Linked DNA regions of Homo sapiens: all the other regions are reported to be linked to region 1. The links are microRNA targets in miRTarBase. Many come from high-throughput screens and were not tested one by one. Region 1 holds a microRNA gene; each other region holds the end of a gene's coding sequence.
The links. Region 1 holds the annotated microRNA hsa-miR-3686 (AUCUGUAAGAGAAAGUAAAUGA, at 2,824-2,845, shown strand). A microRNA usually pairs through its seed, bases 2 to 8, with sites in the 3' UTR of a target mRNA and lowers its output. Matches are read on the target gene's strand: a 7mer-m8 pairs with bases 2 to 8, a 7mer-A1 pairs with bases 2 to 7 and ends in A, and an 8mer does both.

Region 1 (8,027 bases):
CAAAGCTGGCCCTTAGTCTGCTTTTGGTTACAGTTCAGAATCTTTTGATTTTCTGTCCTAGGACCAGTGTTTCCTACCCCCAATAATTTGTCATAGTCCTCCTCATCACTTGAATGGCAATGACTGAAAGTGGACCAAACCCGAGGCCTCTGCATGGTTTTGCACTCTGGAGAAATGCGTGCTGCATCAACAGATGTCCTTACTGCAGCGGGTTCCCAATGCCTCCCAGAATGAGAGAGCCTTATTTGGAATGTACTGATTTGCAGTGCTTCCTGGCCTCTAGGCACAGATTAAATGCAATTACACAATTTATTACTGTATAAACTATTATTTACCTGGAGCGTTCCAAACAATAAACTCTAAATTTAATTCCCCAAAGGTCAAAAACAATTTTTCTTATCCTTGCAAAATGTTTAATCACCGTAGAGAACGGAACTCGTACAGATGGGGAGTAAAGTGAACAGGGAAAGTAACTGGTCAATCTGAAATGTGAATTGATTAAATTTCTGGTTTTTAAAAAGCCCATAAGAAGTCTGCAATAGGGAAACATCATATTGGACAAAAATAATTGTGTTTGTTTTATTTATTATAATATAATTACTTATTTTACTATTAAGTTTAGATCATGTATTTTAACATGGGTCTATGTAACAGATGAGGAAACTGAGGCCCAATTAGGTGAAATGGCACGAAGGGAGCCTCAATCACACTGAGAAGCTCCACATCCAGTTGCCTTATTGTTAGTTAGAGGAAGCTCTGTGCCTCCTGGAATGAGTGAGGGATTAAGGAGAAGAGTATCCACTTTGGGAGCCCGAGGCAGGCGGATCACAAGGGCAGGAGATCAAGACCATCCTGGCTAACATGGTGAAACCCCGTCTCTACTAAAAATACAAAAAAAAAGGAGAAGAGTATCAAAGAGAGGTCTTTTTCTGAAAGGAAATAATGAATTCATGTCTCCAACTGGAGAAACCTTTGAGCAGGAACGGCAACAATGGAACATCTGTGCTGTTCATTCTCTTATCTCCTGCCTATGACAGCCACTGCTAAAACACTATTCTTTCAATCTCTGTGCAAACTCAGAATCATTCTTAACCAGTTCTCCAGTTATGTTATATGTATAGTACTATACATTATATATATAATACATGGTATATATTATATTTATACACCATATATTGATATATAGTATCAATATATAATATATAACATATAATATTTACATGATATATATAACATAATCTATGATATATTACATTTAGCATTACATATATTATAGATAATATATAATAATACACATATAATGTATACTATATTATGTATATAATATGTATAGTATTATATATAATACATATGTATATGTACATATACATGTATATACATATGTGTGTATATATACATATACATATGTATCATATATGATAAATGTATACATACTATATATGTATATACTACATATATGATATATACATTTATATTATGTTATACATAAATATATAATATATAATAATATATACATATGTAATATATTACATATATATATAAAATACAGTCAGAGACAGCAGGTGAAATTTTCTTGCAACTGGGTCAGAGATTGAGTAACTATTATTTACCTGGAGTGTTCCAAACAAACTCTAAATTTCATTTTCCAAAGGTCAAAAACAAATTTCCTTATTCTTGCTTCTTGGTCAACCCCTACACACAGTGGTAAACATTTGTTCCAAATTCTTCCCTCCTGGTCCTTGGAAGGCTGCTTCAGCCTTTGGCATTTGTTTCTGGATAGCCACGACTGGCTTTGTACTCCTCCTGTGCCCTCCTGGCTTTCTGCACATGTTATATCTCTGACTTTCAGCTTTGAGGAAGTAGAATGCTCCTTCCCTTTGGAGAGTCACTGCTCTCCTTACAGACCCGCACACTCAGAGGACAAACCTGCTAAGCCATGGAAATACTCTCTCATTCTCTGCAGTACTAGAGAACAATAAAAGGGGGTGAACAATGGGCATGGGCAACAGCATAGATAAATCTGAAAACCCCCAGGCTGAGTGAAAGAAGCAGATAACAAAAGAGCACATACTGTTTAATTCCCTTTCAACAAAGTTCTGAAAAATGCAAACTACTTTACATAATGAGGATAAACCAGATCATTGTTTTCCTGGGGAAAAGGGAAGGGCAGGGGGAGAGTCCAAAAATGGGAAGGAGAGGAGGAAGGTGGGAGGAACCTTTTGGATTGATGATTTTCCCCGTAATCTTGATTGTGGTGATGGTTTCACAGTGGTATACAATTGTTATTGTCTGATACTTTCGAATTTTGCTTTTAAGCTTTTAAAGGCAAGATAGAGTGACAATTTATCTATTTTTCATTACGTAGCAAAACTATTCTGAACATTTTACCCAATACTCCGTGAAGTATGAGGTTTTCCACTTAGGTTACTGGAAAAAAGAATTATTCCTGGTGCCAGTGTCGTGGCAGGGAATGTTTTCTCTAATCCTTGTTGGTGCTTCCCCCCACCCTCATCTCATAAAGTCTCTGCACGCATGTGCTGATTAGTGCACAGCTAAAGACTCAAGGAGGACTCTGTAGAATCTCTGGTGCCTCTGTTAGGTAGCTCTCTTTGTGGTAGTGCTCTGTTCTTCAAACTTCAGCCATTTTGGTTTCCTGCATTCTCAGATCCATCATCTCAACTCAGTGGGACCACCCAGCTCCATGGGGATTCCTCTCCCTGTGCTGTGGCCTGGAAACTGTCTGTGCGGTCAGCTGGGGCAGTCAGAGGGCTCACCTCATTCATTTACCTTCTCTTACAGATCACTTTTCTGCACTGGACAGTGATCTGTAAGAGAAAGTAAATGAAAGAGGTGAGACTTAGGTTCAATGTCTCAAAAATGTTTCATGTGTTTTAAATGCTGGCTTTTTAGTTGTTTCAAGGGGAAGGTAAATCTAGTCTCTATTACTGTATCTTGACCAGAAACACACATATGCTCTCCTTTTGGATTTATGAAATGGCTTGGGCCATTTGATGAAACATCTTCTGTGGATTCTTCTCTCAGAGTTCAACTGGAACTCTGAGATATTTTCTCATTGGGCTGATAGCACATCTTCTCCTTTCTTGTTTGCATATGTGGTCAGAGAAGGCAGTTTGGACATTGCACCAAACATCTCCCTTGTCTTATGGCTGATAGTATAAGGCAGTATTCTCAAACTGAAGGTCTGTAGACTAAATCTAACCCAAAAATGATGTGTGTGTGTGTGTGTGTGTGTATGTATTTTTGCCTGCACAGTGATTAAAAAAGACCAAATTAGTTTTAAACATTAAAACACTGGACTTTTCCCATGGATATCTGAATTCCTGTCTTCTCTTGAAAAGTCAGAAGACCTGATAAATTTGGCTCATGTTCCCACAGAGTACCATTTATCAAAATACACTAGTGGCTTCCCCCTTTTGAAAGGCTGTGCACGCTCCACTTTCACATAGGCTTCCTCAGGCACCCACCTCTCATTTCTATTACTCGACTGGCCCCAGAGGCATGAGGATCTGTGGCCCTTATTGTAGAGATCAAGAGCACAGACTTTGGAGTTCAATTCTCTTCTCTGGCATTTTGATGATCTGACCAGAGTTCTTTCTCTTTCTGCAACTATTGCCCATGCTTCTATAAATGCTCCCCTTCTCCCTTCCTCCTTCCCTCTTCCTCCTTCCCCCTTCCCCCTTCTCCCTTCCTCCTTCCCCCCTTCCCCTTTCCCCCTTCTCCCTTCCTCCTTCCCCCTTCCCCCTTCCCTCCTCTCCTCCTTCTTCTTCTTCTTCCTCTTCCTCTTCCTCTTCTTCCTCTTCCTCTTCTTCTTTGCCCCTTATGTCTATTCTCTACCCTCTTGTGGCCAACTGTCTTGTGGCCAACTGGTCTTTTATGTATTTCTTTTTTTTTTAATATAAAAAGATTCATTGAATCAAGCTATGACAGTTTTTTAAAGCTATTTTAAACTGTTTTAACAACTATATTGAGCTATAACTTACATGCAAGAAACTACACATAGTTAAAGTGTATAATTTTAAATGTTTGGACATAATATACATCTGCAATCACGATAGTGGATATAGGTCAGGCACAGTGGCTTACATCTGTAATCCTGGCACTTTGGGAGGCCAAGGCAGGCAGATAGCTTGAGCTCTGGATTTTTAAATTTTTTTTTCACATCCAATCTCCCTTTAAAAAGAATTTCTTGAGAATATGGTACATATACACCATGGAATACTATGCAGCTATAAAAAAGAGCAAAATCATATCCTTTACAGCCACATGGGTGCAGCTGGAGGCCATTCTCCTAAGCAAGTTAATGGAGAAACAGAAAACAAAATACCATATATTCTCACTTATAAGTGGGAGTAAAACATTGCGTGCTCATGGACATAGAGATGGCAACAGTAGGCACTGGGGACTACTAGAGGTGAGAGGGTGGGGAACAAGGATTGAAAAACTAACTATTGAGTATGATGCCCAGTACCTGGGTGATGGGATTATTCATACCCCAAACCTCAGCATGCAATATACCCAGATAACAAACCTGTAAACATGCCCCCTGAGTCTAAAATAAAAGTTGGAAAAAAAAAGAAACAAATAAAAAGATATTTATATAGACTCAGTAAACCACTATTATTTCTTGTGTGCAAGTGCTTTGTACCAAGAGAACTCAGAAGCCAGAAGCCACCTTAGGTGACAGTTTATGGGTCAAGTTCCTATTCTTGGGGCACTGGGTTTTGTTCAGTGTTGTGGATAATATGATCAGCTTTCTTCAGAAGAGACTGGGCTTGCCAGGTAGTGACAATGTAATAGACTACTGCATCACATTCACTTAGTTTCCTACTTAGCCCAGATTGTGCTCAAGCAATAAGTTTTCAATAACGATGATAACAAAAGTCATAATAATTGCCCCAGTAATAGCTACTCTTTGTCAAGCACTTATGCTTTTCCAGGCATCACATTAAACACTTTACACAAATTAGCTTATTTTATCCCCGTAATAATGCTAATGATTATTGACTTTATCTCTCCCCCCCAATTTCAAGTATGGGAAAACACTCTCAGAGAGGTGAACTGACTTTTCCTAGCTCATGTCACAGTCAGGAATAAAATTCAACCCCAGAAAAGTCTGATTCTGAATTTATTTTGCAATGGAAGAGAGTAATCCAATGACCATCAGTAGGGGCATGTTACGTGGAACAAATCTGTGAGGTGGGACTTATTTTCATGTTGTAGAACCTCTGATGGAAACTAGGGAGGGCTTTGGAACCAAAAGTGGAAAGGGCAGGAAGGGCGTTCAGTGGAATCAAAGTGGCTCCCAGGAAAGGCAGCTGTTTTACATCATGGAAACAGTAGAGCTTCCGGTAGCACCAGCAGACGCGGCTCCCAGCCTACCACTCACATTCTCCACAACCTTCTGAGAGTTCCTTAACCTCCATGAACCTCAGCTTCCTTTCCTTAAAATAGAGAGAGCAATATCCTGCTGCAGTGTTAATGATGCTCATGAAAGGTAGTCTGTGTGAAAAAAAGTTTAGCAGATAGGGTGTTTTGTAACAGTCAAAATATAGTTTATTTTGAAGGGCTTTTTGGAGGATGAAAGGGGCTAAGACATGTCAATTGCCTGGAACATAGTAGACACTCAATAAGTGAAAACCATTCAGGGTCCAAATCCCATCTCTGCAGTTCCAAAATCCAAAATCCAAAATAGAAAGTTGGATGTCAAAATGAATTTTGGGGGCAAAATCTCACCTGGGGTGATGTGAGGCTACCTGTCTTACATAAGTTAAATTTGATGATGAGATTCTGTGAAACATACAGTGTATATATATCATGACATACAATGTATATATACCGTGTCATGTCTCCAAGGTCTGAGAATGTCTGAATTCTAAAACTTCTCTGGCCTCAAAGATTTTGGATAAGGGATTGTGGACTGGTATTACTATTATTATTATTATTATTATCATCCCATTTCCAGTTCCCTGTTGTTTTATGAGTCCTGGTAGAAATAGCACCTGCCTTGTTTAAGCTTATTTTCCCCAACCCCTAACATAAGTGCCAAGGACAAGGATGGTAATTTATAAATAAATGTGTATTGATGAAATAAATACAAGATTGATGAGAATCTTGGTGATGAAGAAAATAAAAAAATAAAAATGGATTCCCAGGGAAAGAGAGAGGAAGAGTATGCTTTATTTTTCCCTTTCTTTTCCTAGGCCTTTTAAAGGACCATGGGCTGTTTGAGGGGCCAACATCATTAACTGGTGAGTGGGGAGGAGGGGCTGGAAGCAGCCCCACAATCCTGAAAAGGCTGCTCAAGGAGCAGAGCTGGCAGCAGCTCTTGTGTGCAGCGATTCCATCAGGGAACACAATTGCCTTTTTTGGAGGGCTGGCTCAGACACAGCTGGTGTTACAAGCTTTGCAATCCTAATGCAAGGAAAAGCTGGGAAAATCCCACAAAGTGAAATTGTATCTGCTTGTGGTCAAGTTGGGACTCCAAATTTGGACAGTGGAATTTGGTGGGAAAATGTGAAATGCATCAGGGGTTATATAGTGAACCTAAGATTTATCGCTTCGGCAAGTGGCTATTTCCAGAAGAACTAGCAAGTCATGGTAATAATTCTGTGACAGAGGAGAAGGGGGAGGGACCCACAGCTTACTGCTGATGTGATCAACCTGTGAAAATCCTTGAGCAAATGGAAAAGTCAAAGTTGTTCCATGATGCCCGTCAGATCACTGCACACCAGTATGTATATGAGGATTTAAAAAACATGAAGTCAGTTGATTAGAACATAAAATACTAGAGGTAGTCAGAGCAGTTGGACTAGTTGCCAAAATTATATGTTTCCAAGCCTCTGTTTTAAAGCTATTTAAATGTATCCCAGAGAGAGAGTTGGAGGCCAGAGGTAGCCAGCTTAAACCAGGGCTGGCTCTTAACTGACTGCCCAGGAGTGTTTAGGGCAAAGCACTGCAGTGCGAGGCCATCTGAGAATGAAATATAGCACAGCTCAGCTCCAGTCTAGCTGTGTGATGTTGGGCTTGTCAGGCAACCTCTCTGAGTCTCAGTTTCTAACGTGTAGAACGGTGTCCCTAATGTCTGCCCCAGCTCTTTAGGGGCAAATATAATCACGCATGTGAAAAACCTTGTCAAATGCTGTTCTGAGGTACCCAAGAAGGTCCTGGGGAGGCCACCATCAAAATAATCTTCCCTTGGTGTTAGAAATTTCCTTATGATGTTAGCATTATTAAGCCAGAGGTTATTAGCTCAGCTACTGGCTAAATTTGACTCATAGCATTTAAAAATTGGAATATATCATATAACATTTTGGAATTCTGTTTTTTATTGAAAGATTGTAAGCTCTGGAAACACTGGTCATTATTGCAGTACAGCAATACACAGACTCAGTGTCTGGAAAAAAATGGGGGAATGTAGCAAGGATTGGGTGACCCCAGAATGTATTGCAATATACCAGAAGGATCCCAAGTCAACTGGTTTAATCTTCACTCATTAACATAATCTGCTTAGTCCATGAGGAAGTTTGAGTTTTTGACCCCTGTTTTAAGGTACTTAAAGACCTCAGTTAAGATGCCAATGATTTTGGAGGATGTTAAAACACTAGACAATTATAAAGCATGGGGGTGGGGTCACAGATACAGGAGGGAACAGTAGGAGGGAAGCCTACTTTTCACCTGGAGGCTAAAATGGGCTGAAGGATGAGTTTTGTAAATGGTTTATTTAAAATTCTAAACAGCAGCTGCAGATTGCTGACTAGGTGCTGGGTAGCCCACTCCATCTAGGCTTGGACCCAAGGGAAGCGAAGGGAAGGGAAGGGGAGGGAAGGGAAGGGGAGGGGAGGGGAGGAGAAGGGAGGGGAGGGGAGGGGAGGGCAGGGGAAGATAGGGAAGGGATATATTTTGTATTATCTTAATATCAGGATCTTATCCAAGAATTTGAAGACCGTTAATACTAACCCATAGAAACCTGCCATTCGTTGCTGCTACCTACATATAAACAAACACCT
Region 2 (8,027 bases), not on the chromosome of region 1:
GAAAAAATATCCATCTACACAGCACCCAAGGGGAGGGCTGGGGGCACCGGCACGGGGGCAGCGTGCAGCCCTGCCCTGTCAGGCTGTCAGACAAGCCCCGGGGGGCAGCAGGTGGGCTCGGGACGGGCTGGGGGAGGGACGGCCATGGCACTTGGGGGCTCCAGGGTGACTCCCATGAGGCCTCCCTTCAACCAGGCTTTTTGGCCCCACAAATACTTTAAGCAAATCATTAAAATTATAACAGTTAATGGTTTGGGGGTGTTTAGGCTGTAACTGCTAACTCCTAGGAAACAGCCTTTTCCCTGGACACAGATGGTCCATACGCTGAGCCACGTGAAACTGCTGATGTTTTGTTTAGATGCACACACATGGCAGCGTTTCATACAGGTCAGCAGGTTAGACCGGCTTTTGACCATATTCATCGCTATTTAAAACCTGTGGCAAAATGAACGCTTATTTTACAGACTTTCTAATTTGACCAGATTTCTTAATGAATAGACACAGAATTAACTAAAAACAGTCTCACCCCATGTAGTGCGCCGTGTCCTGAGAGAGGTGCCCTCCCTACGAGGAGGGAAGAACAGGCCCTGGGGTGCAGAGGCCCGGCACGTAGAGAACCCAGATAGACGCCGGTGGTGGAACTGGTCAAACTCCACGCCCGCCTGGGAGGTTGTCAGGTTGCTGTGGATGTAAGGATAGGAGGTGCCCAGTGCTCCGCTCAAGGAAGGCTGGATCTGGGCCCCACCTACAGAGAGGGCTCAGGGCTGGACCGGGGGCATTGTGTGCTTGGGCCGACCCGGGCCGGTGGCAGACGCTGTTCTCTGTCGGGAGATTTGCGTCCCCAGGACCCTGTTACACAGTGGGCTGTTGGGTTGGTGGCTGGCTTTTCCTCTATGGACTTCCTCTTCCTGCCCCACCTGCATAGGCACACACACCTTGAATCTGCACCCTCTGGAGGGCATCTGTACTCCTGTGCAAAATGCCCAGTCCAGAGACAAAACCTCAGACTTTGTGCACCTAGGTTTCCTTCTCAGCAGCGGAGACTGTTCTTTGAGTTGCCTTGAAGTGGAGGCCGAGCGGCTGCGGGCCCTTCGCCTCCCTGCGGCTGACCTTGATGTAGCTTTAAGTCACACTAGACTGCAGAGGGGTCCGAGGCCAGAAACCCCTGTCCTGCATCAGACTTTCATTCCCACGTTCTTAGGCTTTGTTACTGATACCTCAAATCGGAAGTTTTAGTTCTGAGAAAGGCAAGTCAGCGTTCTTGAAATGCCTGACTGGTAGATATGCAACTCTGGCCTCCAGTCTTCCATGAAAATAAATGCTGCCTGGACCCCCACCCAGACCACACACTGACGGCCGGCTCCGGCGGTGCCCACCCCTCAGGCTGGCCCGGCACCCAAGACTGGCCACAGCCAGCTCTGTCAGCATGTTGTGCTCGGACAAGCTGTTTCCTTCTTCTGACCAACCCAGGTGTGACCTGGGGATGCAGAGCTTTCTGTTTTGGGTGTTGGGAGAAGCAGCAGGAAGGAGTCGCCAGATGATCAAGCTCCCCCTTTGCTGTCATCTGTGAATGAGCTTCGCCAGGTGGTGGGCACCTGGGAGCCATGCAGAGGCTGTGGTGCTGAGTTAGACTCCAGGTACTTTGTGGTCAAAGGAAATCGCCTAGCTCCAGGCTGTGTTAGGACAGTATTAGCATGAAGGCTGTGCGACCATCATGCCTGCTGATCCTTGAGGCAGGCCTGGTCCAGAAAACTCTGGGTCAGTGACTGCGCAGGGCCAGCCGCTACCAGGACGGCCCTGAAACAGGACACATCTGTTTTTTGTCCCTCACCCTGGGCAGGCCGCGTCACAATCACAGTCCTCCTCCTCCCCACCCTGACGTCTGAGCGCAGGGCTTGAATTGTTAGTCCCAACTCTGGCCAAAGATACTTTTTTCCAGAGACAGAGGCCAGGAGGCAGTGAGGGGAGCCCCGCGGGGAGGCGGCGGCGACTGCCACAGCCCTTCCAGCCTGTCTTGCTGGCCGCCCTGGTTCATATTTGAGTTTAATTGTACTGACCCTGGACCCAGATAAGCAGCAACTTTGTGTCTTTGGGGTCACAGAACATTTTGGGGCAGTTTAATGTGGTACCAAACTGAAAATAGGAGCTATTTATAGATGGAGCAGCACTTAGTGCTTCATAGAAAGCAATGCCTATTTTTAAAGTTACAAACGCAGATATCTACATAGATATGCTTTGCTGAGAAGTTAGGTCTGTGGTAGACCAGAAACCACAAATTGACTTTTTTTCTTAGAAAATATTTCTATTTGCGGTAAATATAGTAATATGTAAATAATGTACATCTGTTGATTTCTGGAGTGTCTGTTATTCAATGATGTATATACTCCCACAGCTCGCATGAAGGAACAGCCTCTATTGATACTTGGTTGTAAAGTGAAGTAAGATTGGAGGGTGGATGGCTGTCAGAGCTCTTGCAGATACTGTGTTCACTAAATAAAAATCACATGTATTGTTAAAACAAGCCTAAGACTTGGTTCTTTAAAACAGATATTGTTGGGTCCAGCAAACACCCCTCCAATTTTCCTTTGCCCGTCCGAGGTGGGATGGCCTGGCCGAAGGTGCCGACTTCGGCAGGAGCACTTACTTGAAGGTTTTAAGAAAGTGAATTCAGATGATGACAGGAAGGAGTCTGGAAGCAAATGGGGAAAACAACAGTAAAAAGACGCCAAGTGTGTGATTTGCTGCCATTTATATACTATAGAAATTTTACATGCTGTATATTTACAGTGGGGCAAGTGCTTTTTTAATCTTTAGAAAAACAAAGATCAAACTTTAAACATCTCTGAACAACACAAACTGTATAAACCATACAGATTATTCAGATACAAACTGTATTAAATACAGTTTTCCCCACTCCATCTCCTGATGCAGGACCAGTGAATTATAAGTGTATCACAGTTTGATAGCATATCCATATTAAAAATAAAATCACAGTATGATTGTGTCTGTAACTAGAAACTCGAAGGGACCAAGCAGACAACGGAGACTCCAGTATCAGTGAAGACAAGAGACGCTGTATCAAAAAGTGTTGTGTAATAGAAACATACTGTCGGCTTTACAAATCATGTCTGGGTTATACATTCATAATGTAAATACTCATCATAACTGGGAAATTGATTGATTGGAACAGTTCCACAAAGTTCAAAAACAGAACTTGTCTATAAAATACATCTTCAAATCTTGAATACAACTAAAATAAGCAAATTAGTTTCTAGTATCAGACATTACAGAAAACAGACTGCTCTCCAAAGTCTAGGTGAGAGCTTGTGAGTTTTTAAATAAGTCTTTAAATTAAATATACACACTGTCAGTTTGTACTTTTGACAATTCCATGGTCTCCCGGTTGGTCTTGCACCAGATGTCTAACTTGGAGGAACATTACATGAAATACAAGTAATCGACCTGAGTCTGTAATTAAGCAGCATTTGAGATGTTCTATTCCAGGGCATTATTTCAATGGGATTTATATACACGGTATTTTACAATGGTCAGCAGTGGTAGAAAGTGTTCGTCCATTCGGAATAAGGGTAATTAAGAAAAGGTAAAAACTAAAAAAAAAGTTCTCCATGGTAAAATCTGTACAGTATTTACTAAAGAAGCACCACGCAGATTGGAACAGAGTTATTGTCTATCTTTATAATTTAAGCTGGGCTGGGGATGGCTTCTGTTGAACGCGTTGAATCTGAAAGACAAGAGGCGCAGGGTTAGTGAGTTGGAGGCAGGCGGCGGCGTGTAGGGCTTATTCCCGGACGCCCTGCCAGCTGCTCCCGAAGGCTGGGGAAGCTCTTCCTTGAGGAGATCACTCTGCCTTCTCTGCCTTCCTGAGTGGAAATGAGGGAACTGGCGGTGCGGGCAGCTCAGCCAGGGAGGCGCCATCTGCTGGGCCCGGCCACCACCCGCCCCAGATGCCTCCTCCACCTCCATCCTCACAGCCCCTCACTCAGGAAGTTTAGCTCCTTAATTAGGGTTGGGCCTCTCCCTTGAGGACACATTGATAAAGCCTGTTAATTAACGGCCAATTAATCCACAGACTCTTCACTTGGCAATTCATTTTAAATTCCTCTTGCTGACTACATGTGACAGACACATTTGGACAAAGTTTCCTTTCAAGGGAAAAATGGTTCACTGTCCCCTCTAGCTCCACAAGGGTCAGGTATAAAACCAGTGACTCTCCCAGGACCGCTGTGTGAAGTGATCCAACAAAGCCCCACAGCTCCGAGGTCCTGATCTGCCGCCCGGCCCTGGGCCACCTTCCTATGGTTTTGTACGGTGGCTGCTGGGGGGGTGCTGGCTCCAGCTCAGTGCCACCTCGGGGCGCAGACAGCAGCACAGGGGACGGGACGGACGAGGGAGCAAGGCTCCGCTCTCCTGAGTGAGGTGCCTGTGCTGGGGACCGGGCCTCTCCCTTCCCAGATGTTTATCAAAGGCCCGTGGGCTCTGCCGCTGTGAGCCGGGTTGGCTTTTCCCAAGTGAGGCACAAGGGAACAGGGCGACTCTGCCTGCGTGAAGGATGCGGGTCTTCCCCAGCCAGTAATGCAAACGTGATGAGGTGGAGGGTCTAGGTCTGTCCCCAAGCGCGTGGCCTGGGTCTGGGCTGGCTGGGAACCTGCCGGGGCCTCTCCATGGCTCTGCCAACTCCTATGAGCCCAGCCCCCAGGCAGAGCCGCAGAATTAAAACTCCTCTGCCTGCGTCCCCTCAGCGCCACCACAAACAATGAGGAAACAGACAGGAAAACAGCTTACCATAACTAGTGAATTTTTTGTTTTGAGGCTGAGTTTTCAATCACCTAGAAAGCAAAGGTCAGGAAAGAGATTTTAATGATGGTTGCAAAATCGCCAGGGCCTCTGCTGTGTGTGTGCGTTAAGTGGCTATGGTCAGAGTCACTGCGGTTCCCTGTGAGCGCCTGAGGCCACTCCCCAGTGAGGTGAGCAGGGATGTCCCAGCGCTCAGCGGCTGCTCCCAGGGTTTTACTGATGTCAAAGGGTTTACGTGATGACTGAGGGCTCCATCCAACCCACACGCAGCCTGATGTTAGAACAGATATCAGGCCCAAGAACTGAACTGGGCGGAACAGAGCCAGAGGAGGAGTTTGAAAGAGAAAGACAAGGGGCCGAAGTCCAGGGTAGAGGGGGACCCGCAGGACCACAGGACGCTGGGTGAGGCGGGGCCGGGCAGCGGCCTTCTCAGAAGGACAAGAAAGGCTCCTCAGTCTGCTCGCAGCAGAAGCGCCAGCTGCAAACCCTGTCATCGGTGCAGTGGGACGGGGACGGAAACACAGGGCCACCACACAGACAACGCCTGACCACAGCACCCGAGACACGAGGCAAACAAGATCACGTTCAACCTCCCTCCCGCTGGACCAGCTGCCTCGGGGGCCATCACTGTCTCCCAGTAGCCCCAGCTGGAAGCCCATGATCCTGGGAGCCTGCACCACACTCAGAATGAGCCCATCCACTGCATCCTCGGATCCTCGGGTACCAAGCAGCCCTCACGAATCTCCTTCCCCGATTCGCTGAAATGGGAACGCAAAACCAATTCTGAAATGTCCAGAACGTCTACAAGGCCCGCAGGCAACCCGTCCTCACCGGCAGTGCTGGTGCCTGTCCTCATCTCCGGCTGTTTCCCCAGCACTCCATGGGCAAATGTCCCCCATGGGGCTCACCCCGCAACCCCCAGCTCTCTCTCACACACTCTAAGGACCGTTTACCCCTCAATCAACAATGCATGCTGGCTCTGGGCTGCTGGGAGGGACAGGCCTTCCCCAGAACACACAGCTCCACCTAACCCACAACTCAGCCGAGAAGCAAAAGGCCTCAGGGCAGCCCTGAAGATTCGTCAAAAGCCCCTGGGAGGAGGGGATGCGCTTCACACGTGAACACAAACAATGGGCGTCCAGGCAGGGGTGACAAACCCTTTCTGTCAAGGGGCAATAATAAACATTTTCCGCTTTGCGAGCCACACGGTCCCTGCCCTGCCGCAGCCACTCACCTCTGCCAGGCAGTGACAGCGAAGCCGCCAGACAGCGTGGGAACGCACCTGGCTGCGCCCCAATCAAGCCACAGACACTGAGGTCTGAATTTCACATCATTTTCATGTGAAACGCATTGTTCTTTGGGATTATTTCCAACCACTTAAAAAGGTTAAAACCATTCTTAACTCCAAGTTCATACAAAGTCTGGTGACTGGCCGAAGTTGGCCCCAGGGCTGCAGTTTGCCAGCCTCCGCTCTAGGTCCACTGACTCGAGTGACATCCGCTTCTAACAGGCTCACAGCTCCTCTCGAGGGTGAGCGGTCACCGGACACCAACGGGAGAGGAAGTGGGGGGCTGCCTCAAGTGCAGTAAGAGCACAGCGTGTGGCCACAGGACGGAGACACAGCCCCACAGGGCAGAAGAGAATCCAGGACACCTGGCAGGGGCAGCCAGCGCTCTGCCACATGGAGGCCTCTGCAGTGTCACTCAAGCAGAGGCTGGTGCCCACGCTTCTAAGGAACCAAGCGAGCAAATCAGTACCGAGCATCAGGGTGCACTCAGAATGCTACAGGTTTAAGGATTCGGGAGAGTAACGTATACGCTGCAAAAGTATTTCTATCAAAAATGCTTTAAAACCAAGAGTTCTCGAGACCATCCTGGCTAACACGGTGAAACACCGTCTCTACTAAAAACACAAAATTTAGCCGGGCGTGGTGGCGGGCGCCTGTAGTCCCGGCTACTCAGGAGGCTGAGGCAGGAGAACAGCATGAACCTGGGAGGCAGAGGTTGCAGTGAGCTGAGATCGCCGCCACTGCACTCCAGCCTGGGCAATAGAGCAAGACTCCGTCTCAAAAAATAAAATAAATAAAATAAAATAAAATAAAACCAAACCAAACCAAGAGTTCTGGTCCTTTGCAAGGCAAAGTCAGATGCCTAGAGCTGTACGTTCCAGGGCTTTGGTGACACAGGTAGTGCTGCCCTCAGTCCTGTGTCACTTAGGCCTTCAATAAACGCTAAGGGCTTAACTGTGCAACGGAACCACACTGCAGGGATGAGCACTGAGGCCAGACCAGGCAGGGCAGGGGTGCTCTGAGTAACTGTGCCCTTTGATGCCACCTGAGGTTTTCTTTCTACATGTTAATCACCTTTGCAAAGAAAATGTATTAAGAAATAGTTTCTATCTTCCTAATTCCAAGTATCTCCTCTTACCCTGGCCATACTCAAAGAGACGACACCTGTCATCCCTGCTTTCCATCCGTAAGTGTTTCGTTTTCTCACGGAAAGGTCCGACGCCTTCCAGAGGCGGGCCACCAGAGAGAGGAAAGCCACCCTGGGCTCTCCGGAACTGGGCGACAGTCTCCAAGCTGGTGACCCTGGGTAAGTGCAGTTCTGAATCTTTAACAAAGTCCTCTGATTTTCTTGAATGTCTCTTCTTTTTCTTCTTCTTTTTTTTGTGTCTGTGGAGGTCAGCGTCAGAGCACGCTGCTGAGAGGTCTGAGTCCTGCTGATGCCTGCAGAAGGAAAAGCCAGAATTCAAAACCCTAAAACACAAAACCACCAGCAGCAGACCCTGGAGCTTGGCCTTTCCACCCATTCACCGAGAACATTCACTGTGCAGACACGCACAATTCTTATCTAATTAGCCACGTAGGCCAGGTATGGTGGCGCACACCTGTAGTCCCAGCTACTCGGGAGGCTGAAGCAGGAGGATCACTTGAGCCCAGGAGATTGAGGCTGCAGTGAGCTACGACTGCAACACCGCACTCCAGCCTGGGCAACAGAGCAAGACCCTGTCTCAAAAATTTAACAAGTTTGCCTTCACTGTAATGACTGTTTCAGTCCAGGGCCATAAATTCACCAACTTTAGCTCCATCCTGAACAGTCCCATCTCTGCTTCAGCTTTCTCAGGAACTAAGGCTGTTGGACAAACACTGCAGGGAGGATTCTGCTAACTTTTCCCGAAACCAGTAGTTACTTGAAGGGAAAGGAAATACT
Region 3 (8,027 bases), not on the chromosome of region 1:
CTCCTGGCCTGTACTACTTAATTCTAACCATACATCAAATACTGTGTGATAATAAGATCACATTGCTAATCTAGTTTTGATTTTAAAGGAAGAACTTGACCTTCTAGTACATGTTATCAAATTACAGTTGGTTTCCCTTGTTTATAGCTGTGTTCTATTAATATAAGGCTGCCACAAGTATGAAACCGTTTTCACATAGGGGAAGTACAGGATTGGGTTCCTACAAACCTCTGATCACAACATTTTCATCAACTGAAAATACGTGACTTTGTTACATGTGTATTTCTGTTTAGACATGCCTTAATGTATGTTAAATTCACATCGAACTCACTACCCAGTAGCACTGTAATTTGTACCTGAACAAAGCCCTCCAACACATACGTTCTCTGTGTGGCACATCACAGCCTTGAATTGAGCAACATTAGATAGCACTTGAACAAGATGCGTGGGGGCCATTTTAAACAACAAAATCATCAGTAAAAAGCACAAAGGTGTAAAATATGTGGCACTAAGTAGACCGGAAAAACAGTTGTTTACGGCATTAGAGCTGAAACAAGAAGACAGAGTGACCTCAGCTTGGAGTGTACATGTGATGCAACTCAACATTTTTTCCTGCTCTGTAGATGCATGCACATGACCATGGAAGGGCTGCAAGTATTGATTTGGGGTGAGGGGGTGGTTAACAAAAGTTTTTTAACAAGAGTAGGTAGGTGACTTTACAAATAACAAAGGTTATTGACTTTTTTAAAGACCTGATAGTTGCATATAAATAAAACGACAACGTGTTAAATGCTAAAGATCTCAATTTCCTTTCTTTTGCAGAGTCCAGCCTCTGATGAAGCAGGAGAGAAAGAAGCCAAGTCTGATTAATAACCATATACCATGTCTTATCAGTGGTCCCTGTCTCCCTTCTTGTACAATCCAGAGGAATATTTTTATCAACTATTTTGTAAATGCAAGTTTTTTAGTAGCTCTAGAAACATTTTTAAGAAGGAGGGAATCCCACCTCATCCCATTTTTTAAGTGTAAATGCTTTTTTTTAAGAGGTGAAATCATTTGCTGGTTGTTTATTTTTTGGTACAACCAGAAAATAGTGTGGGATATTGAATTATGGGAGGCTCTGACTGTCTCGGGTGTCAGCTTAACATTCCACAGATGGGGGGTTAGTTTTTATATCCTATAATACAAAGCATATTAAATGGCAATATGGAGTCAGTCCTGCATTTAATGTCTTGAACATTTTAAATTACTTCTATTACCATGTTGTTTTTTAGTAGAATTGTTTCCTAAAGAAAACCACTCTTTGATCATGGCTCTCTCTGCCAGAATTGTGTGCACTCTGTAACATCTTTGTGGTAGTCCTGTTTTCCTAATAACTTTGTTACTGTGCTGTGAAAGATTACAGATTTGAACATGTAGTGTACGTGCTGTTGAGTTGTGAACTGGTGGGCCGTATGTAACAGCTGACCAACGTGAAGATACTGGTACTTGATAGCCTCTTAAGGAAAATTTGCTTCCAAATTTTAAGCTGGAAAGTCACTGGAATAACTTTAAAAAAGAATTACAATACATGGCTTTTTAGAATTTCGTTACGTATGTTAAGATTTGTGTACAAATTGAAATGTCTGTACTGATCCTCAACCAATAAAATCTCAGTTATGAAAATATTTTGAAGCACATGGATTAAATTCTGGTTTAAATTTTATTTACAGAATTTCCACATTTGAGCCTGGCCAACATGGTGAAACCCTGTCCCTACTAAAAATGCAAAAAAAAATTAGCCAGGTGTGGTGGCAGGTGCCTGTAATCCCAGCTACTCGGGAGGCTGAGCCAGGAGAATCGCTTGAACCTGGGAGGTGGAGGTTGCAGCGCACCCAGATCGCACTACTGCACTCCAGCCTGGGCAACAGAGTGAGACCCTGTCTCAAAAAAAAAAATTCCATATTTGATCTTCCAAAGTTGTTTTTTTTAAGTGAAATGTTTGAATTTTTGTTTAATACAGTCATGGGTCACCACTGACTGGATACAGTCTAAGAAACACATTGTTAGGCAGTTTTCTTGCGTGAACATCATAGAGAGTGCTTACACAAACCTCAGTGGCATAGCCTATTACCTATGTAAGCTGTATGGTTTAACCTATTGCTCCTAGGCAATAGACCTGTACAGCATGTTATTATGTAAATACTATAGGGAGTTGTAATAGAATGGTAAGTACTTGTGTATCTAAAGAGAAGGTACAGTATATAATATGGGACCATTATGTGGTTCATTGTTGGTTGATACCTGAGACATAACTGCTTGAGTATCTATGTCCTTTGAAGTTGCTTGACTATATTGGTTTAAGGGAAAAACAATCCAATATCCTTTGAATCAAAGCAAATACGTAATTCTTAACTCTTCGTATGAGGTTAAAAAAAGTACAGATAGGCCAGGTGTGGTGGCTCACACCTGTAATGCCAGCACTTAGGGAGGCCGAGGTGGGTAGGTCACCTGAGGTCAGGTGTTTGAGACCAAGATGGTGAAACCGCATCTCTACTAAAAATAAAACAGTTAGCTGGGTTTGGTGGTGGGCACCTGTAATCCCAGCTACTCAGGAGGCTGAGGCAGAAGAATTGCTTGAACCCAGGTGGTAGAGGTTGCTGTAAGCTGAGTTCACGCCATTGCATTCCAGCCTGGGTGACAAGTGAAACTTGTCCCAAAAAAAGAAGCTACAACTAAATCTAGTATGGTATGTATTTTCCAGATTTGCTTTCATATACATTCTGTTGTCATTCTGCCCTCTTAAGTATAGTCTTCAGAGGTGGTGTGGGGCAACTCTTGACTTGGCAACAGTGAAAACGGCCGGAGAACAGACCTTGTTGAGGTTATCACTAAATAGGGATCCTTGGAACAGAATTTAAACCTCTGTACACTTGGTGTGTTGTTTTGCCTGTGGGCTGATCAGTAGGCAAGAATCCTTTAAAAACAAGCCCTATGGGATCATAGATCTCTGCACGGACTGCCAGAGCAGAGTTTATAGGGAATAGTGAGGATACAGTAAAAGCAAATGCAGAGGATAGTGATGTGTCATGAACTGACGGCAAAGAAGCTTTGATAACCCTTGGGGGATGGGGAAGGACTAGGAGCCACCTGAGCGCTGTTGGTCATTACACGATGGAGGCCTGAAACGGTGATGAACAGATTTGCCTTTAACTCTGAAGTATAGGTAGAATAGATGAGTTTTTGATAAGCCTTTTAACCATAGAACCATCTGCCAGTGTTTAGTTAGTTGTCATCCCCAACCTTCCCACCCCGGACGGTGGTAATAGATGTTTTCAAATCACAGATTTTCTTAATCGTTGAATACTCGTTGTAATGATATATTTAAAGAAATCACTAGTTTTTCTTACAAATTAAAACAGGTAAAGGGTTTTGGCTTATAGAATACCAAAAACATTGTAGAAAAGCATAACAGAAGTACTTTAAGATCCTGCCTTGAACTACTCCGTTAGGCTTTTCTACAGTTTTTTTGGAGCGAGCCTTGCCTTGTTAAATCTGACCTATTACTTGGGTGTTTGCTAGCCCTAAGGCTGCCCATTTTCCTTTTTTTTTTTTCTTTTAAATCCTACCCACAGGAAGGAACACCTTTTGTTGTTGTTTCTGAGACGGAGTCTCACTCTGTCGCCCAGGCTGGAGTGCAGTGGTGCGATCTCAGCTAACTGCAACCTTTGCCGCCTAGGTTCAAGCAATTCTCTTGCCTCAGCCTCCTGAATAGCTAAGATTACAGGCGTGAGCCACCACACCCGGCTAATTTTTTTGTATTTTTATTAGACACTGGGTTTCACCATGTTGGCCAGGCTGGTCTCGAACTCCTGACCTCATGATCCGCCCGCCTCGGCCTCCCAAAGTGCTGGGATTACCGGCGTGAGCCACCACGCCTTGGCCAGGACACATATTTTTATGATAAACCGACTTCAACTGTCAAAGGAAAAAAAAAATTTTTTTTAACTAAGCCACCTTGGGGGCTGGATGTGGCAGTCACACCAGTGCTGTGGGAGGCCAAGGTGGGAGGATTGCTTGAGCCTGAGTTCAGAATCAGCCTGAGCAACAGCGAGACCCAGTCTCTACAAAAAATTTTAAAAATTAGCCAAGCATAGTGGTGCATATCTGTAGTCCCAGCTACTCAGGAGGCTGAAGAAGGAGGATCACAAGCCCAGGATTTCAAGGCTGCAGTGAGCTGTGATTGTGTCATGGCACTGCAGCCTGGGGTACAAAGATCTTGTCTCAAAAGCCACTTTGAGGCATGTTTTCTGGGATCAGTACAGAAAGTTAATATCTTGCCGTTTAAACAGAGTCGACAGTACTTTTGAGTGATGAGAATGGTTGACTGGCTGTACCAATATCAGACATCTAAAAGTATAAGGAAGAGAACTTCTTATCAGACAGCAATTGGTTGATTAGAAAAACTAGTGAACAAGAACCCTGCATTCTCTTGACTTCTCAGAGATTGAGCTTGACGTGCGTCAAATGTGGGTTAATCAGGATTTAAGGCACAGATCTTGGTACTTAGTACTTGGATTCATGGTAATCATGGAGGCCCCAGGGGGAAGTTCTGTTCTGTTGTAGCAGTTTGGGAAATGTGTATAAAAGTCTTGTGGGGTTAGGGATGAGGTTGGGGAGATGGACAGATGCAGGGATGAGAAATATGTGTGTCATCATAGGGGAGAAATTAATACACATTGGAAAAAAAACTCAGGAACTGCAGGCAAGCTAAAATCACCCATAATTCACTTAAACAGCTATTTAAGTAGCTATTTAAAGATGCATTTTTCTCAGATCCTATTCTATGCTTGTACATCCTATTTTGTAGTCTTTATCATACTGTGACCTTTCTCCCATTTCAGTGAATACACTTACACAGCGTTTGTAAGCACTGTGTAGTATTTTATTTCAAGAATATATAATTTGTCAGACATTTAGACTTTTTCGCATTAAAACAAGAATTGTCAAACTAAAAACTAATCTCTGCTAACCCACACAGATAGACCTAAAGATGTATCTGCTTATCACAATCTCCATTTGTTCCATGAGTTTGCAATAGAAATACTTGGTTGAAACACCAAGTAATTTTGAGAATTAGAATTGAGAATTTCTAAACATTAGGTTTAAAAAGATGATGGGAAGCAGCTCATCAATTGGTAACAATTGTTTTTATTTCAAGATCGTGAAAGCTAGGATTACATTTTTTAAAACCTCAAAGAGTATAAAGTAAGAAACCATTTAGGGGCCCTGCATGGTGCCTCATGCCTGAAATCCCAGCATTTTGGGAGGCCAAGGTGGGCAGATCACTTGAGCTTGAGGTCAGGAGTTTGAGACCAGCCGAGCCGACAAGGCAAAACCCCGTCTCTACTAAAATACAAAAATTAGTCTGTGGTGGGCGCCTGTAGTATCAGCTACTTGGGAGGCTGAAACTGGAGAATCACTTGAACCCAGGAGGCAGAGGTTGCAGCGACCCAAGATCTGCCACTGCACTCCAGCCTGGGCGAAAGAGCAAGACTCTGCCTCAAAAAACAAACAAAAAAACCATTTAATCCCAGAAGCTAAAAGCAATTATTTTAGGGTGAATTTTCTTCATATGTTTGGGTTTTTCCTTAACTGTAAAATGTTTTAATACTTGCTTAATAGTTCATCGTGTGGCAAAACCATAATTTGGCCATTACACTTTTTTTTATAATTATTAAGGGCTGGGCGCAGTGGCTCACGCCTGTAATCCCAGCACTTTGGGAGGCCGAGGCGGGCGGATCACGAGGTTAGGAGATTGAGACCATCCTGGCTAACACGGTGAAACCCCCGTCTCTACTAAAAATACAAAAAGAAATTAGCCGGGCGTGCTGGTGGGCGCCTGCCGTCCCAGCTCCTTGGGAGGCTGAGGCAGGAGAATGGCGTGAACCCAGGAGGCGGAGGTTGCGGTGAGCCGAGATAGCGCCATTGCACTCCAGCTTGGGCGACAGAGCGAGACTGTCAGAAAAAAAAAATTACTCTATTTGGGATAATACTGCTCATGCCAACAGTACAGTATACCGAAGCCCCTGTACCAGGCAACCAGTCCCAGTAGCCATCAACGTTTTTGGAAGCAAATAAGAGTGGATATTTTTAAAATAATATCTACAAATACAAAACTGAAAAGGAACAAAATGCATAAGAACAAATATTTAGGAGTAAAAGCTCATTTACCTTTGTAGTATTGGACATTTTCTCAGGATTGGATACAAATTCAATTTTAAAAGAAGCTGCTATTAAGAAAAAAAAAATCGGCAGGGCACAGTGGCTCATGCCTGTAATCCTAGCACTTTGGGAGGCCAAGGCAAGTGGATCACTTGGGCTCAGGAGTTGGAAACCAGCCTGGCCAACATGGTGAAACCCTGTCTCTACTAAAAATACAAAAAAATTAGCCGGGCCTGGTGGCGGGTGCCTGTAATCCCAGCTACTCCGGAGGCTGAGGCAGGAGAATCACTGGAACTTGGGAGGCAGAGGTTGCACTGAACCGCACCACTGCACTCCAGCATGGGCGACAGAGTTAGACCCCGTCTCAGGGGAAAAAAAAAATTATATATATTATATATATATATATATCTCCATCATGGCTAGTTCCACTTTAGAATTACGTATTAGCGTGGCTCACGCCTGTAATCTCAGCACTTTGGGAGGCCGACGCGGGCGGATCACGAGGTCAGGAAATCGAGACCATCCTGGCTAATACAGTGAAAGCCCGTCTCTACTAAAAATATAAAAAATTAGCCGGGCGCGGTGGCGGGCGCCTGTAGTCCCAGCTACTCGGGAGGCTGAGGCAGGAGAATGGCGTGAACCCGGGAGGCGGAGCTTGCAGTGAGCCGAGATCGCGCCACTGCACTCCAGCCTGGGTAATAGAGCGAGACTCCGTCTCAAAACAAAACAGAAAAAAAAAAGAAAAGAAAAGAAAAAAGAATTACATATTAGCTTCCAGATGCTGATTCCACAAAAATCTTTTCCAGTGGAAAAAAGTAGGTAGATGTTTGAGATTTTTTGAGGGCATGGAGATGTATAGTGCCATGGTTAGTGATGGAATTGAAGGGAAACGGCACGAAGATACGAGACACTCGCTGGGGTGAACGCGGATCGGCATCAGGGCAAGGGACCATCATCTGTAGCTCCATTCCACCACCTCTCGGTTGCAAATGAAGGTAACCTGACAACAGAAGGGGCTAAGGATATAGGTAATGGGCTTAACTGAAGAGACGATAATACTTTACCCAGAGGGTCAGAGTGGATGATGCGGGGCCTGGCAGTTAGTGCACCATAAACGTCTGCTTTCTTTCTTGAGTGATTTTCAGAACCTACAATTACTAGATTCCTGGCAGATTCCTGCCCGCCTCCCACCACCTCACAGCAATATATAGTGTTGAGGAAAGCCTTTGAAACTACACTTAATTTAACCTTAAGCTGAGCATTATAATGGGTAACTCGTACTCATAAAATCTGGCTGTGCTGTCTTGTTAGAGAGTGGCTTTTGTTAAGTCCCTCAGTGTTTCCTTACATCCTTAAGTGTAAAGAAAGATTACTTTTGTGTTTTAGATTTAATCCATAACTGCAAATTATATTAAAAAGTTATATATAATTTTATACTACAAATGTTATCTCTGAAAAGCACTTAATGTTGTTACTCCTTAGAAAATTCTAATTTAAAAAATGTACAAATACTAATAATACATTGAAGTTATGTATGAGAATTTTAAAATACACTAATCTGTTATGCATGATTCATAGAGAAGAAAGATTGGGAGTCTTGCATGCTTGGCTGTTTTTATGTAAGGATGTGGTTGCATATTAAAACGTGCAAGATTGTCATTTCCACCAGTGCCCATTTAGATTTTCAAAAGAAATATATTTAAGACAGTCTTAAAGGTCATCACATGATTTCTCACTTTCTGCTTCAGTTCTCCTTATTTCATCTATTTTTAAAGACAATATGAATGAAATATTAAATTCAACGAACTTAATTGAGCTAATAT
Region 4 (8,027 bases), not on the chromosome of region 1:
CCTCATGGCATGATAGGTAATTTTCTCACAACGGAATACTTGTTTTCTGAAAGGAGTTGTTTATAGGTTAAGCAAAACCAATTTAAGAGCTTTCAGCAAAGTAATATGAAAAGCTTCTGTTAATTTCGCCAGGTGAGAGACAGGGTCTTACTCTGCTGTCTAGGATAGAGTGCAATGGGGCAATCATGGCCCACTGTAACCTCAAATCCCTGGGCTCAAATGATCCTCCCACCTCAGTCTCCCACACAGCTAGGACTATAGGCATTTGCCACCATGCCCAGCTGTTTTGGTAGAGACAGGGTTGTGCTGTGTTGCCCGGCTGGTCTCTATCATGCTTGATCCCTACCCTGTTGACTTCAACAAGGATGGCACCATGTCCAAGAACTGAATGAGAGCCAGAGCTAGAAAATGAGACATAGAGCTAGGCGTGTGGCTCACGCCTGTAATCCCAGCACTTTGGGAGGCCAAGGCAGGCGGATCACCTGAGGTTGGGAGTTCGAGACCACCGTGATCAAAACGCAGAAACCCCGTCTCTACTAAAAATACAAAATTAGCCGGGTGTAGTGGCACATGCCTGTAATCCCTGCTACTTGGGAGGCTGAGGCAGGAGAATCGCTTGAACCGGGAGGTGGAGGTTGCAGTGAGCCGAGATCACGCCACTGCACTCCAGCCTGGGCAACAGGAGCGAAACTCCATCTCAAAAAAGAAAGAAAGAAAGAAAATGAGACATAGGGTTTATTGAGGACTTAGATACAGGGCAGTCCAGGAGCGGCAGGCTGGACAAAAAAACCACTATCATTTGAAAGAAGCATGCAGTTTATATAGTATTTTCACTTATCACCCTCCGCCTAGCTCAAAACAAAGGGCCTCATTCCAAGGAACAGGCCAGGGGTTCAGAAACCTCCAGGTTGGCCACTCCTGGATTTCTTCGTTTGGAACGCTGAACCAACACTCTTCTTAGACCACAGGGTCATTCTTAGGGTGTGCTTGAGTTACTGCTGTCAGATATATCTGTTATACAGTGTCGAACTCCTGGCCTCCAGGATGTTCTTGCCTTAGTCTCCCAAAACACTGGAATTAAAGGCATGAGTCCCTGTACATGACGAGATGGGCTTTTATTAACCTCTTTGTTAGTTTCATCAATCGAGAAGAGAGGGGAGGGTATGCAAAATAAAAATGTTAGAAAATGGGCCACACTTTACAAATTGAGATTATGTCTCCAGTTAAATGAGTTCCCCTATTGCTGTGTAATTCACAAGAAATTCTCCAAGAGGGAGTTACCAATTCAACACATATTTACCCATGACTTCCACGGTGGCTCTTCTGTAAGGAAATGCTTGAACCCAAAGAGAGAACATGCAGATCATAATCAGTTCATATTTATAATCTTGGGCTGGAGGCAAATGCATACAGTTTACCAAATATGAAAAGGTGAGGTGGGCAAAGGGAAATGCCCTTGAGATCCCTGAAAAGAAAGAAAATTCAGTTATACATTTGATACTTAAATATATGGGACACCACTTTGTTAAATTGCAAGAAAAAAACCAAAAGCATGCCAGGCACAGTGGCTCATCCTGTAATCTTAGCATTTTGAGAGGCCAAGGTGGGAAGATCCCTTGAGCTCAGGAGTTTTGAGAGCAGCCTGGGCAACATAGTGAGACCTAATCTCTACAGAAAAATTTTAAAAATTAGCTGTGCGTGGTGGCACATGCCTGTCCCTAGCAACTTGGGAGGCTGAGGTGGGAGGATGACTTGAGTCCAGCAGGTCAAGGCTGCAGTGAATTGTGATTGTGTCACTGTACTCCAGCCTGGGCAACAGAGTGACACTGTCTCAAAAAAAAAAAAAAAAAAAGGGCCAGGCACTATGGCTCATGCCTGAAATCCCAGCACTTTGGGAGGCCGAGGCGGGCAGATCATCACAAGGTCAGGACTTCAAGACCAGCCTGAACAACATGGTAAAACCCCATCTCCACTAAAAATACAAAAATTAACCGGGCATGGTGGTGCATGCCTGTAATCCCACCTACCCGGGAGGCTGAGGCAGGAGAATCGCTTGAACCCTGGAGGTGGAGGCTGCAGTGAGCTGAGATCGTGCCACTCCAGCCTGGGCAGACAGACGGACATTCTGTCTCAAAAACAAAAAAAATTAAGAAAGAATCAAAAGCAACTTTCTAATTCATTGCAGACGGGAGTATTTTTCTATTTAGTGACACACTTACCTAACCCATTTATGCCAAGGGATGCAAAATATATATATATATACATATACACACACATACATATATACACACATATATATACATATATACATACATATACATACATGTATATACATATATACACACACATATATACATATATACATATATATACATACACACACACACACACACACACACACATATATACACATATATATATATTTTTTGAGACCGAGTCTTGCTCTGTCACCCAGGCTGGAGTACAGTGGTGCGATCTTGGCTCACGGCAAGCTCCACCTCCCGGGTTCACTCCATTCTCCTGCCTCAGCCTCCCGAGTAGCTGGGACTACAGGCGCCTGCCACCACGCCCAGCTAATTTTTTGTATTTTTTTAGTAGAGACGGGGTTTCACCATGTTAGCCAGGATGGTCTCGATCTCCTGACCTCGTGATCCGCCTGCCTCAGCCTCCCAAAGTGCTGGGATTACAGGCGTGAGCCACCGTGCCTGGCCACTTTCATGGGTTTCTATGAAAGTCTAAACTTACCACATGGTACAGTTTAAATATGTATAGTTTACAGAATGTCATTTATTCCTTATTATGGCTTTAAAGAATTGATTCAAAAGAAAAATGTGGGCTGGACATGATGGCTGAGGCCTGTAATCCCAGCACTTTGGGAGGCTGAGGGAAAAGGATTGCTTGAGGAGTTCGAGGCTGCAGTGAACTATGATCTCGCCACTGTACTCCAGCCTGGGTCACAGAGCAACACCTTGTCTTAGAAAAAAAAAAAAAGAAAAACATGGATTTTCTATTATTTTTGACAAACATGCTTGACAACTATACAAAATCTCCTCATGTCCTAAGTGCAGCAATGAGTCTCTGCGGCAGCAAATACTGATAAGCCAGGAAGGCCATTTTCACCTGATTAAATTGGAACACTGGTTGGTCACAAAGACCACATCACTGGACTAAGAGATCTCCCTTCTCCCTATCCTCTTCCTCCTGCCAATGCAGGAATTGCCTTGAGGTGAACAGCCGAGAAAGGGTACAGGAATCCACGAATCCTTTATATTATTTCCTTTGACAATGGCCTCAGCTACACAAGATTCATAATTATGGAGGTTCTGAGAATTTCTGTACCTGACAGTCCACCACATACATAGTAACTGAATCAATGTGGATGACGTGCATTCCAACTCTGTTCTTGCAGTGTCCTCCACTGCCTATAAATGCAGAAATTCTATAAATTATGACTTCCTGTTATAATCTCATAACCTGGGACACCACACTACGAAACTCTGGATATCAGAGCACATGGCTGCATTCCAGGACCTAGGGAACAGATTTCCCTCAGCAGTACTGAGCAGAATGCAATATCCCTTGTAAAAGAGAGGAAATTTTCGTGTCGATCTCAGAAGCATCAGAGGATGTCACAAACACTGTTCCCTTCTCAGGTTTATCTATAAACCCAGAAATTATTGGAGTATCTAGTCAACAAATAAGGACCACAAAGTTCTGGAGTCTTTGGAGGCCTTGGGCAGCCATGAAAACTATGCCACAAGTGAAGAGACAGTATATTCTGTCATCATACTGTCCCCTCTGAGGCACACAAAGTCTAGTGATCCCAACAAAAGCTGTCTGCCCCTTTATGACACCAGAACCCAGTTGTTTCCAAACCACCCGAAAGAGTAAATACAACTCTCAAGACTGAAGGAAGCTTAAACAATAAGGCCTTATTCATTGCACAAATCAGAGCAATGGGAAGCAGAATGTTCTTTGGTTGGAACTTAAGAGCCTAAAGAATCACATGAGACCCGCTGGGTGCGGTGGCTCACGCCTGTAATCCCAGCATTTTGGGAGGCCAAGGAGGGCAGATCATGAGGTCAGGAGATCGAGACCATCCTGGCTAACACGGAGAAACCCCATTTCTACTAAAAATACAAAAAAATTAGCTGGGCATGGTGGTGGGCACCTGTAGTCCCAGCTACTCGGGAGGCTGAGGCAGGAGAATGGCGTGAACCCGGGAGGCGGAGCTTGCAGTGAGCTGAGATCACGCCACTGTACTCCAGCCTGGGCGACAGAGCGAGACTCTGTCTCAAAAAAAAAAAAAAAATATCACATGAGACCCATAAGGTCCCTGAAAAAGGTAGTCCATCTTTTCAAGCTGACAGAAGACCCCTCTGGACCAGTACTGAGACAGATCCATGGTCTCGCTCATCCGAAAGAAATGAGAAAGGAATGACAGCTGAGACTACTCACCAATTCCTCTGGCCAACGAAAGACAACCAAGGTTTACTTCCAGAACATCATGGGGTGAATGAATGATGCACAGTGAACACCTGCCTCGTGGCCGACATAAAATGGCTTTTGCCAGATAACCGACATCATGTCTGGCAAGGGAACCCGGCAGGGTGAAAAATGCCACACAGCTCCAACATAATTGAGTTTATGCAGATGCTGAAGGTATGTCAATTTAGGCAGATGGCTCCGTCATAAGGCATCTCCTCCAGTGTTATGTTTTACAAGAAATAATATTTCCTGTACGTGTACAGTGTTTTCCTTATGAGAACAATCTGTTATCCAATGACAGAAGGCAGAAGGCTTTCTCACATTCATCGCACTCAAGAGGCCCTTCTGCAGTGGGAGCTCTTCTGTATGTAATAAAACAAGACTTCTGCATAAAGAATATCCCACGTTTGTCACACTCATAAGGTCCTGATCCAGTAAGAACCCTCTGATCAAGAAGATGCACAGAGGTTTAGCTAAAGAATTTCCCAAATTTCTTTTCACTTGTAAGGACTTCTTTCTGTGTGAACTCTCTGATGTCGAAGGAGAGAAGAGCTTCGATGAAATGATTTTCCACATTCACTGCACTCATAAGGCCTTTCTCCAGTGTGTACTCTCCTGTGTTCAGTAAGACTGAAGGTTTCAGCAAAGGATTTCCCACATTCGCTGCACTCGTAAGGCTTTCCTCGAGTATGAAGTCTCTGATGTTTAAAATGCGCAGACCTTCGAGTAAATGTTTTTCCACATTCCCTGCATTCATAAGGCCTTTCTCCAGTGTGAACTCTCCTGTGTTCAAGGAGACTGGAGAAGAATTTCCCACATTCTCTGCACTCATAAGGTCTTTCTGCAGTGTGAGTTTTCTGATGTCGAAGGAGGGAAGAGCTCTGATGAAATGACTTTCCACATTCTCCACATTCATAAGGCCTTTCTCCAGTATGAACTCTCCGATGTCGAAGGAGGGAACAGCTTTGAGGAAATGACTTCCCACATTCACTACACTCAAACGGTTTTTCTCCAGTGTGAACTCTCTGATGAACACGAAACCCAGAGCTGTCTTGAAATGATTTCCCACATTCATTACATTCATATGGCCTTTCTCCAGTGTGAACTCTCTGGTGTTCAATGAGGTGGGACTTGCCCCTAAATAATTTCCTACACTCTCTACACTCATAAGGCCTTTCTCCAGTGTGGCTTCGCTGATGCTGAATGAGGTTGCCCTTTCGACTAAAAGATTTCCCACATTCTCCACACTCGTAAGGTCTTTCTCCAGTGTGACCTCGCTGATGGTTCCTAAGGTGTCCCTTTCGACTAAAAGATTTCCCACATTCTCCACACTCATAAGGTCGTTCTCTAGTGTGAACTCGATGATGTTCAGTTAGGGTGCCCTTTTGACTAAAACATTTTCCACATTCTTCACACTCATAAGGTCTTTCACTAGTGTGACCTCGTTGATGTTGAATGAGATTGCCCTTCTGAGTAAAACATTTCCCACATTCTTCACACTCATAAGGTCTTTCTCCAGTGTGAACTCGTTGATGTTTAATGAGAGTACCATTTTGACTAAAAGATTTCCCACATTCTCCACACTCATAAGGTCTTTCTCCAGTATGAACTCGCTGATGCTGAACAAGGCTGCCCTTATGACTAAAAGATTTCCCACATTCTCCACATTCATAAGGTCTTTTCCCAGTGTGAACTCGCTGATGCTGAACAAGGCTGCCCTTATGACTAAAAGATTTCCCACATTCTCCACATTCATAAGGTCTTTTCCCAGTGTGAACTCTCTGATGATTACTGACGCTATCATATTTGCTAAAGGATTTCCCACATTCCCAGCAATAACATTCCTCTCTAGAGGGAAGTCTCTGCTGTTGAACAAATACGTGTTTGGTGCTAGAATGTTTCATGCATTCTCCACAGCTGTAATGAGTATCTCCCCACTGAAAGGGAGACTCACACTCAGGTTTGCTGTTTGACTTCTCCCCAGTGTGAGTGGCCTCCTGCAGCAGTAATCCTGAGCTGGGCAAAAAGTCCTTTCCACTCTGAATGAAGATAGATGACTCCTCTGACACATGGAACTTACACCTCTTCACAAACAATGCTTCCTCAACACTGCTTCTATAGGGTTTCTCTCCAAGGTACTGATTCTGGTGCGGACGGTTTGAACTATCATACAATTTATTCCCCCATGCCTCACACCTGTGCAGTTTCTGCTTGTGATGTGTCCCCTGATGATCTGCCAAGTGCAAAATGTCTCCCAAGATCGCGCCACACATTTCACAAGAGTGGGCCTTCTTGGGAGACACACCTGCCCCAGGAGTGCTGACCTGAGACACTCTTTGTATAGAAATGCTCTTCTTAGAAGGTGCCTCCTCATCTTCTGATCCACACCAACAACCTGAAAGCAAGAAAATGCTGATGAATTCAAGTTAACTCTGGTGGGAAGGCACAGCCCACCCACAAGCGTGTCTGACAAACCAAGGAATTACTCCATGGAAATATTTGCAGGAACAGAAAGTTGGCTTCACGTGGAAGATGAGGCTATCATTACTGGGCTATAAAGGTCACAGAATGTCGGCCTCATGATATGAAGGGCATTAGCATACATGCAACACAGAGAATTGAGCCAAGGTCTACAATTTTTTTTTTCTTCTTGAGAGACAGGATCTCACTCTGTCATCCAGCACAGAGTGCAGTGGCATAATCTCTGTCTCCTGGGCTCAGGTGATCCTCCCACCTCAGCCTCCACAGTAGCTGGGACCACAGGCACAGGCCAATACGCCCAGCTACTTTTTGTAGAGGTGGGGTTTCGCCTTGTTGCCCAGGCTGGTCTCAAACTCCCAGGTTCAAGAAATCCACCCACATCGGCCTCCCAAAGTGCTGGGATTACAGGTGTAAGCCAATGCACCTGCTGTATAACTCTTTCCTTTGCAAACCACTTGTCTGCGGGAAATTATCTGATGACATGTTAATGCTATATAGAAGGCTATGTCCAGGCCTAAGAAAATGATTTACAAGACAACAGCTCTTGGTCAGAACAGTTTAACAATTTGCACACACTTGGCCGGGTGCGGTGGCTCACACCTGTAATCCCAGCACTTTGGGAGGCCAAGGTGGGTGGATCACGAGGTCAGGAGATCGAGACCATCCTGGCTAACACAGTGAAACCCCGTCTCTACTAAAAATACAAAAAAATTAGCCGGGCGTGGTGGCGGGCGCCTGTAGTCTCAGCTACTCGGGAGGCTGAGGCAGGAGAATGGCGTGAACCCAGGAGGTGGAGCTTGCAGTGAGCTGAGATCACGCCACTGTACTCCAGCCTGGGCGACAAAGAGAGACTCCATCTCAAAAACAAAAACAAAAACCAAAAACAAAACACAATTTGTACACACTTGCTAATACACAATGTGTATGCCAGTATCGGACAGCACTCTAGAAGTAAACATGAGAAAATAAATGGGTGAGATGTGGAGTCCAGAGACTGGAAGATTCGTTGGGGGATGGACATCAGAGTACAAGTGACAAGGTGTACAACTGACAAATCT

Region 2: the mRNA of USP42 is a reported target of hsa-miR-3686. Seed matches in the 3' UTR shown: 7mer-m8 at 3,468-3,474 and 7mer-m8 at 3,005-3,011.
Region 3: miRTarBase lists HMGN1 as a target of hsa-miR-3686. Seed matches in the 3' UTR shown: 7mer-m8 at 1,400-1,406.
Region 4: miRTarBase lists ZNF418 as a target of hsa-miR-3686. Seed matches in the 3' UTR shown: 7mer-A1 at 4,849-4,855 and 8mer at 1,322-1,329.

Annotation. Positions count from the first base shown.
Region 1 is chr8:129,478,885-129,486,911 of GRCh38, reverse strand. It overlaps MIR3686 (microRNA 3686), which reads left to right and starts at 2,770; the gene lies at 2,770-2,855. CCDC26 (CCDC26 long non-coding RNA) reads left to right here. Exons shown (of 4, transcript NR_130917.1): 2 at 6,222-6,269.
Region 2 is chr7:6,156,270-6,164,296 of GRCh38, reverse strand. USP42 (ubiquitin specific peptidase 42) reads right to left here. Exons shown (of 18, transcript NM_032172.3): 16 at 7,242-7,543; 17 at 4,804-4,847; 18 at 2,733-3,742. The coding sequence ends at 4,840. It overlaps CYTH3 (cytohesin 3), which reads left to right. Exons shown (of 13, transcript NM_004227.4): 13 at 1-2,518. Among named protein-coding and RNA genes, the nearest start is that of USP42, 55 kb to the right of the region's middle.
Region 3 is chr21:39,335,955-39,343,981 of GRCh38, reverse strand. It overlaps HMGN1 (high mobility group nucleosome binding domain 1), which reads left to right. Exons shown (of 6, transcript NM_004965.7): 6 at 823-1,667. The coding sequence ends at 870. Among named protein-coding and RNA genes, the nearest start is that of HMGN1, 9.1 kb to the left of the region's middle.
Region 4 is chr19:57,921,165-57,929,191 of GRCh38, forward strand. ZNF418 (zinc finger protein 418) reads right to left here. Exons shown (of 6, transcript NM_133460.3): 4 at 4,459-6,883; 5 at 2,028-2,125; 6 at 718-1,465. The coding sequence ends at 4,986. Among named protein-coding and RNA genes, the nearest start is that of ZNF417, 8.6 kb to the left of the region's middle.